Linked DNA regions of Homo sapiens. The protein of the gene in region 2 purifies or fractionates together with the protein of the main gene of each other region. This does not show direct contact. Each region holds a gene or a part of one and is shown on either strand. Other genes may lie near its edges.

The links. The genes of interacting proteins can lie anywhere in the genome.
Region 1: the proteins of TSPAN14 (region 2) and ITGA2 purify together in Homo sapiens (co-immunoprecipitation; one large-scale study listed by IntAct). This does not show direct contact.

Annotation. Positions count from the first base shown.
Region 1 is NC_000005.10:53,055,352-53,058,851, reverse strand, and holds part of ITGA2 (integrin alpha-2 precursor), read right to left. Parts: intron 3,315-3,500; coding exon 3,164-3,314; intron 2,869-3,163; coding exon 2,703-2,868; intron 828-2,702; coding exon 751-827; intron 1-750. UniProt on the Homo sapiens protein: Integrin alpha-2/beta-1 is a receptor for laminin, collagen, collagen C-propeptides, fibronectin and E-cadherin. It recognizes the proline-hydroxylated sequence G-F-P-G-E-R in collagen.
Region 2 is NC_000010.11:80,453,152-80,457,109, reverse strand, and holds the start of TSPAN14 (tetraspanin-14), read right to left. Parts: upstream 2,801-3,958; 5' UTR 2,739-2,800; intron 1-2,738. UniProt on the Homo sapiens protein: Part of TspanC8 subgroup, composed of 6 members that interact with the transmembrane metalloprotease ADAM10.

The DNA.
Region 1 (3,500 bases), on a different chromosome or scaffold from region 2:
AAGATCCATAACTTCTATGAGCATCTCTAAGGATTGATGATCCAGAAAAAGTCAGTTCCTTTGATTCTAGATAGAAAACAAGCTGTTCTTGGTCCTCTGACCTGCCGATCAAATCCTGGGATTTCCTACTGTTCCTTAAATAATTCCCAGGATCTCTTTCTTTTTTTTTTCGCCTCCTTTCACTATCTCTCTCACCTCCTGACTCAAATTAGAATCAGGGGCCCAGGAGGTGGATGTTTCTGAGAGATAGAAATAGACTTCCCCGAGCTGAAAAGACAGTGTTGTATTCCAATTCCACCTCACGTTTTTCCTACCTCCTTATTTTTTCAACTCTTTTCTGTCTGCTCTTAGAAAAAGATACTATGACCATTCAGAATTCGACCATGACGGTGATGACAAGAGTACGTGTTTTTAACAAACATTTCCAGTAGTTAATTGATTCAAAGAAAATTCCTGCAGGAATAATACCTTAAGTTAATATACAGTCTGTGCCCTGGGGTACTCAAAGACTTTCTGGTATACTATCAGTTTTCCCCCATATAAGATCCCTGTGAAACAGGGAAGGGAAGACATTATTATCCTTCAAATTTTAGAGGTAAATCAGCAGCACAAAGAAACTAAATGACCGTGACTAGGAATCAGAAGGGCTGATCCCTAGATGGCTGTCTTCCCATTTTATGTATAAGGCTACTGTGTCTGGAAGTGTTATGCCAAATGACAACATGGCTTGAAGCTATCTGATATACGCACATTTTGAGAAGAGTAATCTGCACTGAATCCCACTTGTGACATTTCCATCTGAAAGTTGTCTCCTCCTTGAACAGTACCTGGAACATTCAATTTTAAAAATTGTATTACTGTCAGTAATTTTAAATCAAGTTTTCAAACACAAGCAGGCACGTATGTACACACATGCCTACAAACACAAACACAAACACACACTGTTCCAATACTCACCCAAAAATACAGAGCTTGCATATTCTGGGAAGAAGAAATTACTAAGAAAGTGTTCTAGCAGGTTATGGAAATAACAACACTTCCAAGGTAGTGTTCAAAGTTGGCATTAACTTTAATTGAACATTAATGTATTTAGCAGAATATGTATGACGTTCTTGATACCAAAGGACACTCAACAAAGGGTATAAGGTAAGGTGAAAACTGAGATGATAATTTTTTAAAAACTTGATCATTACTAGCTAAGAAACTAACTGAATTTTTAGCTTTGAAATATGGGTACTGATAATGTACACATATCTCAGATGCAGTTGGAAGGGCTGGGCAATTGATCTGTAGTGAAGACTGCTGGGAGATAACTGAGTTAGCTATTAGGAATCAGAATTCAAGACTGAGTAGGAATTTTACCAATTGGGAAGTTTGTTCTGGTTCTGTATATGTGCTTGCCTGTGTCACTAACACTGTAAGATGCAATTGGTACTTATTTTCCATACAGTGTGATCAAAATGGCTACGTTTCACTAATCTTCACAAAAGGAAGCTAAATTACTGGACTCACACTTTAATATAGAAAAGAAGACAAACTGTACTGTACAACATAGTCTTATTTAGAAGATAAAATAATTTACACAGGATGAGTAGAGATACTTTTTAATAAAATAGAATAATGTTCCCCAAAGTCCATAATAGCAAATAATGCTCAAAATCATTTCTAGCTAGCTTGTAGATTGCAATTGTTCTCATTCATTCCACTACAAACAAATACAATTATCAGTGTGGATAGCCTAGTGATTTTGTGTTATCTCAGGGTATGCTGGATTTAAATGGTTATTTAAACAACTTTGAAGCACCATGGGATACTGAAGAAGCAATAATGCTTTTTGGGTAATTCCAATGGATAATCAAATCAAGATTTGAGTATATGAATGAATAATTTATGCAATTCCTTTAGCCCCAGACTCTAAGGCTGTACCTGATACATAGGTTTCCAATAACATATGGTCTTTATTGCAAAGAGTTATTCGGGTTAACCATCAAGAACTAGGATTTGGGTGATGTGTGTTTTTTTTTTCTTTTAACCAACTGTGAAGTGTGTGCTAGTCCCCCACACAGTGAGCTCCTGAACACGTGATCTTTCTGCACTAACTAGATTTTCCAAGGCCACCTAAGTAAATTATTTTAGGTCCTATAAATAAAATGCTTCCTCAAAAACTGAACTATTAAAAATCTTTGCTGTATTTTTCTAATTTTAAAAATATATATGCTTACTGTAAACAAATTCAAGAATTTTAGAACTTACATAACACAGTGTAAAAAGGTAAAACTATTTATGATTCTAATAGATAGATATTCATACATTGTCCCCCAAAAGTCATAACAATTTATCATCCTATCAACAGTGTATGAGCTTCTTTGCTTCCTGATAATCTCTCCAGGATTAAACATTATTATTCTGTGTCATCTTTTAGGCAAAACATATTGTCGGTTTAATTTATGTTTTTAAATACTTACTGAAAGTATTTAGAAATATACTTTGTAAATTGGGAATATTTTCTTATGTTTATCAGTCATTTGTATTTTATCATTTATAAACTATTTATTCATGTTTTTCATCCATTTCTCTTACTGATTGTAGTAGCTCTTTTTATACATGGTATACAAGTTAACATTAGTAAAGCAAATATGTGATAATAAACAATTATTTAAACATTTTGAAGAAAATTCTTGAAAGGAGGTTATTTTTTTTACCTTCAATGCTGAAAATTTGTTCTCCTAATGTCCCAGCCTTTTCTAGTAGAGCTGCTTCATCAGACACATTGAAAAAGTATCTTTCTGTTGGAATACTAGCGATTGCTTTTATTTCTTTTATTAAATTTTTAGTATCAAGGGCGTTTCTGTTTAAGTACCCAAGAACCTTGAAAATAGAGGAAGAGAATGTGCAGTCATTACTGCTGTACATTTTCCCTATGAGTACATTCTAGCCTATTTTGAACACAATATTCCCTCTGGAAAAGTAAATCAAGCAACATTTCCATAACCCTTTATTTAGTAGACAGGATTGAAAATCATCAAGAAGCAGAGATAGAGTAAGAACTTTCTTTTATATTCAACTATGAACAGCCAATGGGAAAGTGCAGCCTTGAGAAGTGATGCTATAAAGAAAGATTTACCCAATAGCGGCAAGACAAGTGAAAAGAAAAGCCACTTACTGCTATGCCAAACCTCAGTATATTGTCATGGTTGCATTGATCAATCACAGCTTTCAACATTGAACCATCATGTGATTCACCGTCAGTTACAACTACCATTACTTTCGTAGCACTTCGTCGCCCACCAGAAGCTGCTGAATAAGCATATTTTCTGTGGCAGATAAAATTAAATAAAGACTTGCTATCAAAATATGAAGTTAATATGAGAACCTCTGGTTTAAAATAGAAACATGAAACTAGCTTCTTTAAACACAATCTATTGTAACTCCATATTAATTCTGAGGACATATTTAATGTTCCATTTGTAGCTTGTAGAGAAACATATACAAATGGAAGT
Region 2 (3,958 bases):
GGAGCTGTTGACATCACGGTTGTTTTGCTTTTTGTTTTTTGTTTTTTGAGATGGAGTTTCATTCTTGTTGCCCAGGCTGGAGTGCAACGGCGCGATCTCAGCTCACTGCAACCTCCACCTCCCAGATTGAAGCAATTCTCCTGCCTCAGCCTCCCAAGTAGCTGGGATTATAGGCATGTGCCACCACGCCCAGCTAATTTTGTATTTTTCGTAGAGACAGGGTTTCACCGTGTTGGTCAGGCTGGTCTTGAACTCCTGACCTCAGGTGATCCACCCACCTCGGCCTCCCAAAGTGCTGGGATTACAGGCATGAGCCATCACGCCCAGCCATCACAGCTGTTTTCAAGGATTAAATGAGTTATTACAAGTCAAACTTCTAGGGTGTAAGTCTCAATAAACTCACATTAGTATCACTATGAAATAATCTTGTCCTTCACTAAATTTTAAGCCAGCAAAGGTTTCCCAGGCCTGGCACAATGCCACTTTGCAGGCACTGCTAAAAGGAATTCTACCTCAGTTGAAGTTAAATGGGTCAAATTCCTGAGCACATGGTGGCATAGAGTGAGGCCTCAGGAAATAGTTCCAGAACCCAGGGCTTTCCTGCTCCCCGGCCTCCATGGGAACTTCACTTCACTGCCGCCACAACCTTCAGGGCAGAGCCATCTCCTCTCCCACTTCATACTGCCACTTCCTACATGAGAAGGACCTTCACCAGTCCTCAGAGACTAGCACAGCTGCCCAGCTGGTGAAGGGGACAATTCCCTGGGCAGCCAACCATTCTGCAGCTCCATGCCCTTTCTTCCTGGGGCAGCCACAAACCTTCAGAAGCACCCATGGGCTCAGACCCCCCCCACAACCCCGTCTCCCTAAATGATCCTGCTACGCTGAGATCAAGCTCAGATCAATAAACACTACTGAGCACCTATGCCATGTCCAGCCTGGGTTCTAAGACCACACCAAGTTCATAGCTGGTGAGGGACTTTCCAGACTTGGAATAGTGCCTGCAACAATGCCTCGCACCCCACAGAAATCTCAACCATGCTTTGTTAACTAAACTGAGGATGACATTAGGTGGCCCAAGCAGTGGAGTTCAGAGATGTGGGGATGGATATATCCAGAGTCTCCAACTGAAGTTGGGGTGCAACACAATGAGAAGGAAAGGGAAAATACATCTGGTGGCCCTGGGTTTCCAGGGCCTGTCACTATAACGTTAGGGATCGGAGTGGGATCAGACTGCGCGTGGTGGCTCACACCTGTAATCCCTGTGCTTTGGGAGGCTGAGGTGGGAGGATCACTTGAGCCCAGCAATTTGAGGCTATGATCACACCAGCAGCTAAGGGGATAGAAGGGCATACAGGGCCATTATGGTGGAGTCTGGGCTTCATTCTGGGGGTGCCAGGGCCCAGGAAGATCCCTGGAAAGACGGCCGCCCCCACCAACCACTCGGCTAGCTGAAATGTGGCAAGGACATAGGGGTGCTCCGATGGCCTGTCCCCAGGTTTCCCTTCACAAATAGAGAAGGGTGGCCGGAGCACTCAGCAGGCACTAACTGCTTCTGGACTTCAAGGTCAAGGGGCAAGGGGAAGGCTACTTTTGAGGATTTGGCAGGCCACTCTCTCACTAGCCCAAGAGCAACTCCCTCTCGGAAGGGAGGAAGATCCCCTGGAGAGCAGACCACTGCCAAGAGCACACCTGCAGAGGCTCCAATACAATGCTCTGCACAGCCGCCCAGCACCGCCTGACCTCCCGGATAGCAGCGCCAGCACAGCCAACGAGTGTGTGACACCGCCGCACTCACCACCGCTCTGCGCCCAGCCCCAGGCCAGTACCCGGGCCCACGACTTCCCCCGACTCCCCCTAGCACGGACTGTTTCTCGCCGGAGATCAACTTTAAGTCCCCAAGACAAGTGCTCCTGCGGTCCCAGGGCCAAAGTCCCTCCACACACCCTCACACAGGCACTTCCTACCCACCCGCACCCCACCCCTGGGGGTGGAGGAGAAGCAGCAGCGGCCCGGGACAAGCACAGTCCGCAGCCACAAACCTCACTCTACCAGAACTCCGGCTAGGTCAGGGGTCAGGCTTTGCTCCCAAACACAACCCCACACGACTAACGCGGAGAAGCTGGGTCACCGCCTACTCAAACTCCGGCCGTCCCAAACCCAAGCCGGGCAGAGTGGGACCCACGGCGGCGTGGGAGACTGAGCACAACCACGGCGGGGCAGGAGGAAGGGGCGGCCCGCCCCGGCCTACGCCCACCCCCACCCCGGACCCGATCTCCTGGGAGCCGAGGGTGGGTGACTGAGCCGAAAGGGTGGCCCATCCCCGAGCTCGCTGCTGGGGACGAGAAGCAGAGCCCCGAGCAGCAGCGGCCGTCCAGGCTCCCGTCGCCCTCACCCCGCCCGGCACGGGCGCGCACTCGCCGGGGCGCGCTGATGGGGCGAGGGCTACCGAACCAGGAGTGCCGGCCCCGGGCCCGCCGCGGCTCTCGTCCGCGCGGCGCCGGAGTTCGGCTCAGCGGGGTCCCGGCGGAGGCCTCCAACCTCTAGCGAGCAATCCTGGCAGACAAAGCCAGCGCCGCCCGCGGGGCCGCTCCTGGGCAGGCGGGGAGGGAGGCTGAGGGGCCAAACAGGGACCTAAGGAGCAGCCCTCGCCCCCGGAGAACGCTCGGGGAAGTCGGCCTCAGACAAAGAAAGGGGCAGGGCCCGACGCCCCAGCCAGGTCTCCGCGCTCTACTCACCCGCGCGCGGCGGCGGCAGCGGCGGCGCGGCCCGGCTCGGCCGAGGAAGTTAGAGCAAGTTCCGCGGCGCGGGGCGGGAGGGCGCGACTCGGGCCGTCCGAGCGGCGGGGGCGGGGCGCGGAGGGGCGCGGAGGGGCGGGGCCGGAGGCGCGGCGCCTGCCGTCTGCCGAGGAAGGGGCGCCGCTTCCCTGCGCCGCCCGGTGCGGCCCCGGGCGCCTGGGCCCGCCCTGGCCCCGCCCCTCCCCCAGCCGCCTCGCCCCTCCCCCACCGCACCCCGCCTCCCGGCCCGCGCGGCACCGGGGACCGCGAGGCCGGGTCGCCGGCCCGCCCCTTTGTCCCGCTCTGGGCGGTGCCGGAGGCTTGGGGCGGCCCCGGTCCGCGCCCTCCCAGTGGGTGCGCGGCGCAGGCCGGGCCTGGCCCGGGGCCGGGCACTTGTAGCCGCCGGGAGCGCTCTGAGCCGTTGCGCTGCGCAGACGCCGCTCTGGCCTTGTCGGAGCCGAACCTGGGAGAAGCACGAGCTGTGGGAGGCGGCGTCTCGAGGGATACACGGGATGACCGTGGAGAGCGGGCGAAGGATTAGGAAAATGGCTGTGGTGGAGATAAGAGGCGTTCCTGCCCGGCTTTGGAGCCTGGGGGCGGGGGTAGTCTTCAATCAAAAGAAGGATGGGGAAAAGGTTTTTATTTCTTTGTAAACCAAGGAGTAAGGACACGCTCCTTCTGGCCTTGGTGCTAAAAATACCAAGCTTTCTTTGGATCGTGGCTGAGATTTCTTCCTAACCTTTACGCTAAAGAGGTGGCTGGGACGATTCTTGTGGTGTAGGGGGGTTTCCAGGGACAGCCAGGGGTGGCGCCCCTCTTTGGATCGTGGCTGAGATTTGTTCCTCACCTTTACGCTAAAGAGATGGCTGGGACGATTCCTGTGGGGTAGAGGGGTTTCCAGGGATAGCCAGGGGCGGCTCCCCAGCCTCAGCCTCCCTACCTGTAGAATGAAGCATGCCACACCTCTGTTTCTTAAACTTATTCGGTGGCTGAGGGCCGAGTGGTCTTCTCTGTTGAGTAACACCAAACAGGGATCTATTAAAACTGGGCTAAGACTGGTTGCCACATGCCAGTACAAGCAACCAACAGGTTAATTCCAATGGAAGGAGGAAATCTTGAAATGGAGACTGTTCAGTCCATTCCCAGGTTTGTTTGGGTTGTTTTTTGAGCTAAGGTATCGC